Linked DNA regions of Homo sapiens. The protein of the gene in region 3 purifies or fractionates together with the protein of the main gene of each other region. This does not show direct contact. Each region holds a gene or a part of one and is shown on either strand. Other genes may lie near its edges.

Region 1 (3,748 bases), on a different chromosome or scaffold from region 3:
ACTTTTTTTACCAACAGATTCCTAGTAACATTCATTTACACTAAGTTTCTTGGCCCACCTGAATTATTCCGCTTAAAAATATATATATCTGGTGGAAAAATAATCATTTTCAATTTTCAGAAGACATTCCGAGGGCCAGTTATATAGCTGTGATTGACACCTGTCATCTAGCTGTAATAGATGTTCATAGAGATAATGAAGAGTTAACTTTCAGTTGTCTAGTAAAAAGAAATCCAGCAGAAATCAGGCTGTTTCCCAAAACACACCCTGAACCCAGATCCCTGCCATGGACAGAGGGTCTGGGCAACTCTGCCCTTTCCCTGGTCTTGGTCTAGCCCCTTCTCCCTCCTACAGCGTGAAGCACATCTCCTGTCCCCTGCTCATCCTGCACGCTGAGGACGACCCGGTGGTGCCCTTCCAGCTTGGCAGAAAGGTGGGTCCTGGCCTCTGCCTCTGGTGTAGCTGGCATCTTGCACACTCAGCCAGTGTGGGTGGACCAGGCTGGGAGTGGGCAGGCGGGAAGGCAGCCCCTGCATGCTGCATCACGGGCTGCGCACCAGCCACGTCAGGCTCAGGAGGCCACCTCATCCTCCCTGCGTCACCTCCAGGCTGCTTCGGAAGGACATGGGAGGTCTGGTGTAAAGGTTGGGGCAGGGGCCCACTGATGCTGTCTCCAAGAATATGAAAAATAAGCAGATAGTTCCCAGTCCTCACACAGGGGTTATCAGAGTGGGCTGCCTATGTTATCAGAGCCCAGGCCAACCTGGGAACTCAGCTGGAAGGGCTCATCAGTTATGGGCTGAAGGCAAAGAACCCCTTGATGAGGATCTCCCAAGCCCATTGCAGGGGTCACAGTCAAAATTGATAGAGAAACTTCTAGCCTGTTTCCTTGCCTTTGGAATTGCGCTGATACCAGAACCAGACCATGCTGTCTGTGGGGCCTCAGTGTTTGCTTTTGCTGAATTTGCTTTGACTGTCAGCAAGTTGGATTGGATTTGTGGCTCAGAGTAGGGTAAGAGAAGGCAGCCTGGGTCTTGGTAATGGCAGGGCAAACTAGTTGGGTGTGTGCAGGCCTCGTCCACGGATTCAGCCCAGGGCTGGGAGCACTTCCTGCTCTGACAGCCCCCATGCAGTCAGGCTCCATAAGGCACACAGATGACGGAGCCACACAGGGCAGGGGCAGAATGCAGAGCCGCCCAGCAGCGCACAGCTCAGGCCCACCTACCCTTGCCGAAATGAGAGGGGGAGGGGGCTGAGATGGGTACATCAAGCCCATCTTAGCTAAGCCTGAGGCACATACCTTTTGTCCCAGCTCCCCAAGACTGTGCCATCCCTGCCATCAGAGCCTCCCAGGCACCTGGTCTGGCTCATCCACCTAGCCACTCCCCAGAGGAAGGGTAGTCTATAAGGTGTGAGGACAGTATCTTGAGTGGTGTGTGCCCAGGAGCCAAGCCTGGGGCCTGGCTCCTCCCAGCCCACCCCCGGGCCTCCTGGTCGTGACCGGCTGTGGCAACAAGCAGTGTATGTGGGACTCTGGACTGGTTTCTATTGAAGGGGAGGCTGCCAAGCTGGTGTTCCTCAGGCTGGGACCCCCATGCCAGGCCACTGCCTCAGGCTCTGACCCCTCTCTCCCCAGCTCTATAGCATCGCCGCACCAGCTCGAAGCTTCCGAGATTTCAAAGTTCAGTTTGTGCCCTTTCATTCAGACCTTGGCTACAGGCACAAATACATTTACAAGAGCCCTGAGCTGCCACGGATACTGAGGTGAGACATTCTCTTCCCACCCAGGGGCTTCGTCTGGGCAGCACTGGCTCACACCTAACGTGCAGCAGGTGGCAGCTGCTGAAGCTGCTCAGGGGGCCTCAGTGGGGCCAAGAGTCACAGTGATTTGGGAGCCTTCCATTTCCTTGGCAGAGGGGTTTGAGGGAGTGCCTCTCTCCTGCTCCAGGACTGTTCACATGATCATGCAGGGTGAGCCGCCTCCATGTTGTAAAGGATGTACAGACCCACACGGGGGGGCACACACGCTCACAGGTGGCCATGTTTGGGAACACTCAGACACAGACACCCCAGCCACTTGCAGGCCTCGGATCTCTTCCACACACCTCTCAAGACGTACACAGCTCCTCAAAAGCCTCTTTGTCCCCAGCTGCTTCTTGAAGGGACGTGGTGCTCCTGACTGCCCTGCACTGGCAGGACATGGGCGCCAGCCCAGAGAGCCATGAGTACCCACCTGGGCCTGAGTGCAGAGCCCAAGCCTGAGGGTGAGGCCTTGGCAGTAGTGACAAGGGCAGTGTGTGGAATGGACCAACCCCCGGCCTCCTCTGTACTGCCCTGGGCCCTATGCAGGTTGCTGCCCAGACTCGCCTACCTGCCTGTCAGAGGACACAGGCCCCCACCCCACTGCCTGGCTGTGTGGCCTTGGGCAAGATGCTAACCCTCCCTGTGCATGGGACAAGGCTTCTGAGCCGAGGAGGGCATGTGGTACTTCGACCCTAAGCACTGGACCCACGGAGGGGCTGCTGCTAATGGTGATAGAGTTTTTTGTTGTGTTGTGCCAGTCAGCTCCAAAAAGTAGGTCAAGGTGCCAGTTTCTCCCTGCAGGGGACTGAAATTGGTGGCCTGAATTGCCTCCCAGTGCTGTATATCCCGTGAGTAATTCTACTGCAAACTTCTGCTTTTCTCCAGTTGCCTTTGGAAGTTCCAGAGGCAAAACTGTGTCCCTTTAGCACAGGTACCTGGGTTGCTAAGGGGGCAGTGGGCTCAGAGTATGGGTTTGCTTTGCGGTTATAATTTTCCCCATTATAAAAGGAAGATATGTGTAGAAAATTTAGACCAGAGAATAGCTCTGAAGTTGAGGGTCAAGAATCAGAGACCTTGTCTCCATGCCTGTGTGTTGGGCTTTGACTTGGCACCACACTGCTTGTTCCCTGCCTAACTCACTGAGTGCTGCTCTGGGCTACAGCGCATCCTCATGGGGCTCTTGGCTGCCTCCTCTCTGCACAGCCTCTGCTTCCTTAGATAGCAGTGTGAGGACTGTGGAGAAGGATCTTTGGTCTGAGCTCAAATGATTGGCTCCTGATTGTCCTGTGGTCTAGGGAATTCCTGGGGAAGTCGGAGCCTGAGCACCAGCACTGAGCCTGGCCGTGGGAAGGAAGCATGAAGACCTCTGCCCTCCTCCCGTTTTCCTCCAGTCAGCAGCCCGGTATCCTGAAGCCCCGGGGGGCCGGCACCTGCAATGCTCAGGAGCCCAGCTCGCACCTGGAGAGCACCTCAGATCCCAGGCGGGGAGGCCCCTGCAGGCCTGCAGTGCCCGGAGGCCTGAGCATGGCTGTGTGGAAAGCGTGGGTGGCAGGCATGTGGCTCTCCTTGCCGCCCCTCAACCTGAGATCTTGTTGGGAGACTTAATGGCAGCAGGCAGCCATCACTGCCTGCTTGATGCTGCACTGAGCTGGACAGGGGGAGTCCGGGCAGGGGACTCTTGGGGCTCGGGACCATGCTGAGCTTTTTGGCACCACCCACAGAGAACGTGGGGTCCAGGTTCTTTCTGCACCTTCCCAGCACATGCAGAATGACTCCAGTGGTTCCATCGTCCCCTCCTGCCCTGTGTACCTGCTTGCCTTTCTCAGCTGCCCCACCTCCCCTGGGCTGGCCCACTCACCCACAGTGGAAGTGCCCGGGATCTGCACTTCCTCCCCTTTCACCTACCTGTACACCTAACCTGGCCTTAGACTGAGCTTTATTTAAG
Region 2 (3,333 bases), on a different chromosome or scaffold from region 3:
AGCCCCTTCCTTTTCATTGCAGAAGTTCTCATTCACACTGGGGTGTTTAATTGACAACCGAAGAATGTCAAGTGCAGGAAAGACAATATCTATTAAAAAAAAAAAGTCATTAATGCTTATGAAAATAAAGAAAATTTCTTTTGACTATCGACTTTGAAGGATTTTATTTTCCCACTGCAAAACTAACCATTTTAGAAAATGTGAAAAATCATGTGTCTGCTTTAAAAAAAATGCATATATTTCTGAAACTTTTGTTAATTTTTCATATTTATATAAACTAGATTTATTGCTGTAAGATCATATTCGCTTTAAAAATAAGGTAACTCTCTCAAACAGCCTACACACTGTGAGTATTCAAAAATGAATGGAAAGAATGGGGTGCAGACTTTGCTTTTAAAAAATTCTGTAAGACCGAACAATTAAACAGGGAAAGTTCTTTTTTTTTTTTTTTTTTTTTTTGAGACAGTTTCACTCCTGTTGCCCAGGCTGGATTGCAATGGCATGATCTCGGCTCACTGCAACCTCCACCTCCCGGGTTCAAGCAATTCTCCTGTCTCAGCCTCCCAAGTAGCTGGAATTACAGGTGCACGTCACCACGCCCAGCTAATTTTTGTATTGTTAGTAGAGACGAGGTTTCATCATATTGGTCAGGCTGGTCTCAAACTCCTGACTTCAGGTGATCTACCCAAGTTGGTCTCCCAAAGTGCTGGGATTACAGGCATGAGCCACCGTGCCCAGCCGGAAAGTTCTTAAGAGAAGAATTCCAGTTAACAAGTGATAGGATGCTTATAGGTTGGTGGGAGCTTTATAATCAAGGGCCTGGGTAGATGCCATCTGAATGAATGCACAAAATAATCTTAGCATCACTAAAGGTGAGGAAATCCAACATTATGTGCTCCGTAATGTAAAAGTAGTATGCATCATCATTTATAAAGGATTTCACCTAAAAAAAAAACACCTACTGAACCAGAATCTAATTTTGCCACTAGCAATAAATACAGAGATGGAGGAACACATCAGCAAAATCCATAATATGGGACATTTTATTGAAAAAAAAAAAAAAAAGACTTTTTCTCCAATAAATCAGTGGCATAAAAAAAAATAACAGGCAAGGACTCTTTGAGAATTAAAAAAGACTTAACTGACATAATTGGAAAAAAAAAAACTTACAGTAAATATTTGTAGCCTAGGGTTAACAGGTCACTAAGAGTATCTTGGATGCCTGGCCAGGAATCCACAAATGCTCTGAAACAGTAAACAAACAGGTGCATGCCCGGGCGCGGTGGCTCACGCCTGTAATCCCAGGCTGAGGCGGGAGGATCACGAGGTCAGGAGATTGAGACCATCCTGGCTAACGTGGTGAAACCCCGTCTCTACTAAAAATACAAAAAATTAGCCGGGCATGGTGGCGGGTGCCTATAGTCCCAGCTACTAAGGAGGCTGAGGCAGGAGAACGGCGTGAACCCGGGAGGCGGAGCTTGCAGTGAGCTTGCAGTGAGCCGAGATCACGCCACTGCACTCCAGCCTGGGCGACAGAGCAAGACTCCATTTCAAAAACAAAAACAAAACAAAACAAAAAAACAAAGAAAACAAACAACAACAACAAAAAAACAAACTGGTGCATATATGGGGATCATATATTACCTTCAGATTCTCAAAAGGCATGTAACGGAAACAAGATCATCAATTCCAGTAGTGTAGTGAACCCTTTTCGTGAAGATTTTCCATAGTGATTTAGAACTACCGAAGTTAACTTTCATTTAATCCACAAATACCAGTAATATTGATAGAAATGAAGATAAAACTTCTTGCTTTCTGGTTACATTTTTGAAGAGTGTTTATTTACCTTCAGGACAGTTAATAGCTTTCCACAAAATCTGAAGTTGCTGGACTGTGGGTTTTTCTGAAGAACTATTACATATTAGAGACAGTATCTTCTCAAGAAGTATCAAGTCATCCTCAGTTAACTTCTTCTCTTCAGGTGCAGTTCCATTAAGTTCCTTCAGTTTACCTAGAACCCAAAACCAAACTTTCAAAATTCTCTAACTGTAATTGGCCAGATAATATATAAATGCCAAGACTTTCAATAAAAGTACTCTAGTGTACACCATGGGGAGTTAAGACTTTACTCAGCAATTATCAAACACCATAAAGTAAGGATAAGGCTTATGAGCTTTGTCTTTTTTTTTTTTTTTTTTGAGATGGAGTCCTGCTCAGTCGCCCAGGCTGGAGTGCAGTGGCGCCATCTTGGCTCACTGCAAGCTCGCCCCCCAGGTTCAAGCAATTCTCCTGCCTCAGCCTCCTGAGTAGCTGGGACTATAGGCGCCTGCCACCATGCCTGGCTAATTTTTTGTGTTTTTAGTAGAGACGGGGTTTCACCACATTAGCCAGGATGGTCTCAATCTCCTGACCTCGTGGTCCACCCTCCTTAGCCTCCCGAAGTGCTGTGATTACAGGTGTGAGCCACCACGCCTGGCCTTATTATTATTATTTTGAGATGGAGTCTCACTCTGTTGCCCAGGCTGGAGTGCAGTGGCATGATCTCGGCTCACTGCAACCTCCGCCATCAGGATTTTCAAGCGATTCTCCTGCCTCAGCCTCCCGAGTAGCTGGAACTACCAGCATGCACCACCACACCAGCTAATTTTTGTATTTTTAGTAGAGATGGGGTTTCACCATGTTGGCCAGGCTGACCAACATGGTGAAAAACTCCTGACCTCAAGTGACCCACCTGCCTTGAACTCCCAAAGTGCTGGCATTACAGGCATGAGCCACCACGTCCGGCCTCCATTTTGGATGACTTTCAAAGCAGTATCATGTGTAATATATATTCAAGTGTAAGTCAATAACCTAGTTTCTCCATGAGAAAATTTATAACAACTTTTTAGCCAATTTATGTCAAATTCTACAGCTGTCAATGAAATAGTCAAAGAGTTAAATGCCTACTGATAACATTTAATTTATGACTTAGTTCCATATGCATATTTGATGTCACATTATTTTAAAAATTTATTTAATGGACATACTGCCCTTTCTTCCCATGTTCTCATTTCATGAAACAATTTCCTTCAAATCCTTCGCATGTATCTTTAGTATCAGTATCCTTTGTATCATGACTTTGAGTTACTGTGTTTCTTTAAAAATCTTTATCTCAAGAATAAAAAAGTCCAAATTCCGATAATAAGGAAAATTATCCAAATTTACACCATTGAAATCAATTATAAATGGAAACTAGGGCCTGTTTCACTAATCTCAGGTATTAACAGCTTTAACTCTAATAAATAAAAATCAAGTTCATTAAGGAATGCAAAAGTCTAAATACCTGTTAGATTT
Region 3 (3,748 bases):
GCGTGAGCCACTGCGACCGGCCCAAAGTTAACCTTCTGTCGAACGGTTTATATCTGGAAAGGTGGGTGAGGAAAGGGTGACCTAGGGGATTGCAAAATAGATTATTGCAGATCCTACCTTTGTGAGCTTTTTGAATGAGGCTATAAAGGAATTTAAAAATCAGATTCAACACTAATTCCGAAACCCCTCACTTCATTCAGGGTGTGGGCCGAAGATATGCTCATGTGGTGTTGAGGAAAGCAGACATTGACCTCACCAAGAGGGCGGGAGAACTCACTGAGGATGAGGTGAGGACAAGGAAGGGGGCTGGGGGTGGGGTCAGCCTCAGAAAGGGGTCCATCTAGATCTGACCTTGGTCTGCCTGCCAGGTGGAACGTGTGATCACCATTATGCAGAATCCACGCCAGTACAAGATCCCAGACTGGTTCTTGAACAGACAGAAGGATGTAAAGGATGGAAAATACAGCCAGGTGTGTACTGAAATGAGGGCAGGATTAGAGGAAGGGTGGAGGGTCCTAACAGAATTGGGCATAGGAGGTCAGGGGATAAAACATCCCTTGCCCCCTCCTCTGAATCCAGGTCCTAGCCAATGGTCTGGACAACAAGCTCCGTGAAGACCTGGAGCGACTGAAGAAGATTCGGGCCCATAGAGGGCTGCGTCACTTCTGGGGGTGAGTGGGGGGTCTCATCTCCCTGCCTACCTCGACTCAGCATTCCTCCTACTCGCTCTTCTTTTTCCCCAACCTTTTGTTTCTGCTGTGCATGACCTGTGACTCTTCTCTTTTTACCTGCAGCCTTCGTGTCCGAGGCCAGCACACCAAGACCACTGGCCGCCGTGGCCGCACCGTGGGTGTGTCCAAGAAGAAATAAGTCTGTAGGCCTTGTCTGTTAATAAATAGTTTATATACCTATGGCTTCCTGTCCTTTCTGTCCATTCTAATAGGGAATGTTAAAGTGCTGGGTCCTTTTTCCATTTAGAGCTGCCCTACTCAGTTGCCCACACAGTGCTATTAGTTTTAGCAGTGGTGATGCTGCAGACCCCCCAGTCTCCCTATATGTAGCTAGTGATGTCCCTCTCTGTAAAGAGAAATGTGAGGGTAAAACAGTTCAGCCTTGAGGGGCTGACCCAGACCAGTTTAGAGACCAACACCCTGGGGTTGGTGTGCAGCATCATTGTGGAGTGGGTTAGCTGAGCCTAGCCAGTTGCAGTTAAGGTGAGTTTGCAGGTCTTGGTCACTCTGGGTTTTTTTGTTTTTGTTTTTGTTTTCTTTTAAGGGGTCATCTAGTCATAAGGGAAAATCCTTCGGGCTGTGACCGAAGCAACAAAGGCAAAAACGCGGACGTTGGTTATGAAGGGTGTGGTCTCCCTGGTGGAGTACGTCGGTGGGTTGGGATGGGGAGCGGCTGGACAGACCGGTCTCACTCCGTTTGGTGCCACTCCACCCGCCCGGGTTTCCGCGCCCTGCCGCGCTGCTCCGACGCCGCTTCCGGCGGGGATGGGAGCGCGCAACGCGGAAGCGGGCGGCAGACCGGCCGCCGGGGCGAGGCGGGGGAGGGGCCGTGAGTGCCGCAGTCGGCCAGCCATGGAGCGGAGCTTGCTGGCGGCGAGGCCGCGGCGACAAGGTAGCCACCCCCGCAGCATGCCTCGACCGCGGTCCGCAGCTGCACCGCCTCTCCCCGCCCCCCAGGGTGCGCTGGTCCCGGTCGCGCGCTCAGACCTCCGCATCCCGGGCGTGGTCGGTTAAGTCCCCGGCCGTGACCCAGGCCCGGGGAGCTAGTCTCCGCCCTTCGCTCTTACGGATCCCCTCGGAGTACGCCGCACCATGCAGCTCAGGCTCTTCCGGCGCCTCCTTCTCGCCGCTTTGCTGCTGGTGATCGTCTGGACCCTCTTCGGGCCTTCGGGGTTGGGGGAGGAGCTGCTGAGCCTCTCACTAGCCTCCCTGCTCCCAGCCCCCGCCTCACCGGGGCCGCCCCTGGCCCTGCCCCGCCTCTTGATCCCCAACCAGGAAGCTTGCAGTGGTCCCGGGGCCCCTCCCTTCCTGCTCATCCTGGTGTGCACGGCTCCGGAGAACCTGAACCAGAGAAACGCCATTCGGGCTTCGTGGGGCGGGCTGCGCGAGGCCCGGGGGCTCAGGGTACAGACGCTATTCTTGCTGGGAGAGCCGAACGCACAGCACCCCGTGTGGGGTTCCCAGGGGAGTGACCTGGCCTCGGAGTCAGCAGCCCAGGGGGATATCTTGCAGGCCGCCTTCCAGGACTCCTACCGCAACCTCACCCTAAAGACCCTCAGCGGGCTGAACTGGGCTGAGAAACACTGCCCCATGGCCCGATACGTCCTCAAGACGGACGATGATGTGTATGTCAACGTCCCTGAACTGGTATCAGAGCTGGTCTTGCGAGGGGGCCGTTGGGGGCAATGGGAGAGAAGCACGGAACCCCAGAGAGAGGCTGAGCAGGAAGGAGGCCAGGTTTTGCACAGCGAGGAAGTGCCTCTTCTGTACTTGGGCCGGGTGCACTGGCGCGTGAACCCCTCTCGGACACCGGGGGGCAGGCACCGCGTATCAGAGGAGCAGTGGCCTCACACCTGGGGCCCCTTTCCACCCTATGCCTCAGGCACGGGGTATGTGCTGTCAGCGTCTGCTGTGCAGCTCATTCTCAAGGTGGCCAGCCGGGCACCCCTTCTCCCATTAGAGGATGTCTTTGTGGGGGTAAGTGCCCGACGAGGAGGCCTCGCCCCAACACAGTGTGTCAAGCTGGCTGGTGCCACCCACTACCCGCTAGACCGGTGCTGCTATGGGAAATTCCTGCTGACGTCCCACAGGCTGGACCCCTGGAAGATGCAGGAAGCCTGGAAGCTGGTGGGTGGCTCTGACGGGGAAAGGACTGCGCCCTTTTGCTCCTGGTTCCAGGGAGTCCTGGGCATCCTGCGGTGTCGAGCAATAGCCTGGCTTCAGAGCTGAGAGTGCCTGGGGCCACAGGAAAGGCAGGAACAGGACCTTCTCTCTCCCAGGCCCAACGCAGGGGCCCTCACTGGCTGCAGCTGATCTGTTTCCTTATACCAGATCCTCAGTCTCACTAAAGACAGCGATATGGGAGACACCCAGGGGCCTGGCCCGCCAGCCCAAAAGATGGTCATCGGGAAGAGAAAAAGAAAAAAATGCTGCAGTTGTTCTCTCAAGCTAGGGCAGAAGAGGGGTGTCAAGCTCCTCAATAAACTTGTCTCCACTTCTTCGAGTGCAGTGTGGTCTTCACCAGGACCCCCAGAACACCACAAACCTGGAGAGCCCAGAGGCTGCCAGACCCTGCTGCATGGGAAGGACATCTCCAGGGACATGGGAGAGAGGACAGCCTCTCTGAGGAGGAAGGCCCCTAAAAGGCAAAGCTAAGGCCACAGCAGCCACAAGGTATGGGGTGGGGGTAGAGGCAGGACACTGACCCCTCCGATCCTAGAATGGCCTCATGCTTGGCAAGGGGGAGGGGAACAGGTCCACAAGATGATCCAGACACATTATCCAAAAAATCGCTTTCCTCTTTAATACCAACCCACCCCAGGAGACAGCTGTCCACCCCCAGTTGGGGAAGGGGCCACACTGCCCCCACCTCCTTGTTCCAGGGAACACTCATTTCCCTACAGGTGATCTTGGGGAGAGACTGTTCCCAGGCAACCCTGGAGTCTGGCTCAGCGCACAAATCTGTCCAGGGCAGATGGCCGGGCCCCCGTGGGCTTGGCCTTCGCCTCCTTATGATG

What was found.
Region 1: the proteins of B3GALT4 (region 3) and ABHD12 purify together in Homo sapiens (affinity purification with mass spectrometry; one large-scale study listed by BioGRID and IntAct). This does not show direct contact.
Region 2: the proteins of B3GALT4 (region 3) and PLAA purify together in Homo sapiens (affinity purification with mass spectrometry; one large-scale study listed by BioGRID and IntAct). This does not show direct contact.

The regions. Positions count from the first base shown.
Region 1 is NC_000020.11:25,300,235-25,303,982, reverse strand, and holds part of ABHD12 (lysophosphatidylserine lipase ABHD12), read left to right. Parts: intron 1-354; coding exon 355-433; coding exon of another isoform or gene 434-685; exon of another isoform or gene 686-1,636; coding exon 1,637-1,764; intron 1,765-2,604; coding exon of another isoform or gene 2,605-2,626; exon of another isoform or gene 2,627-2,651; intron 2,652-3,098; coding exon 3,099-3,138; 3' UTR 3,139-3,748.
Region 2 is NC_000009.12:26,905,988-26,909,320, forward strand, and holds part of PLAA (phospholipase A-2-activating protein), read right to left. Parts: intron 2,012-3,333; coding exon 1,847-2,011; intron 90-1,846; coding exon 1-89. UniProt on the Homo sapiens protein: Plays a role in protein ubiquitination, sorting and degradation through its association with VCP. Involved in ubiquitin-mediated membrane proteins trafficking to late endosomes in an ESCRT-dependent manner, and hence plays a role in synaptic vesicle recycling.
Region 3 is NC_000006.12:33,275,597-33,279,344, forward strand, and holds B3GALT4 (beta-1,3-galactosyltransferase 4 precursor), read left to right. Parts: upstream 1-1,526; 5' UTR 1,527-1,823; coding exon 1,824-2,960; 3' UTR 2,961-3,229; downstream 3,230-3,748. Other genes in the region: RPS18 (small ribosomal subunit protein uS13), read left to right, coding at 201-287, 369-470, 580-671, 795-870; WDR46 (WD repeat-containing protein 46), read right to left, coding at 3,680-3,748. UniProt on the Homo sapiens protein: Involved in GM1/GD1B/GA1 ganglioside biosynthesis.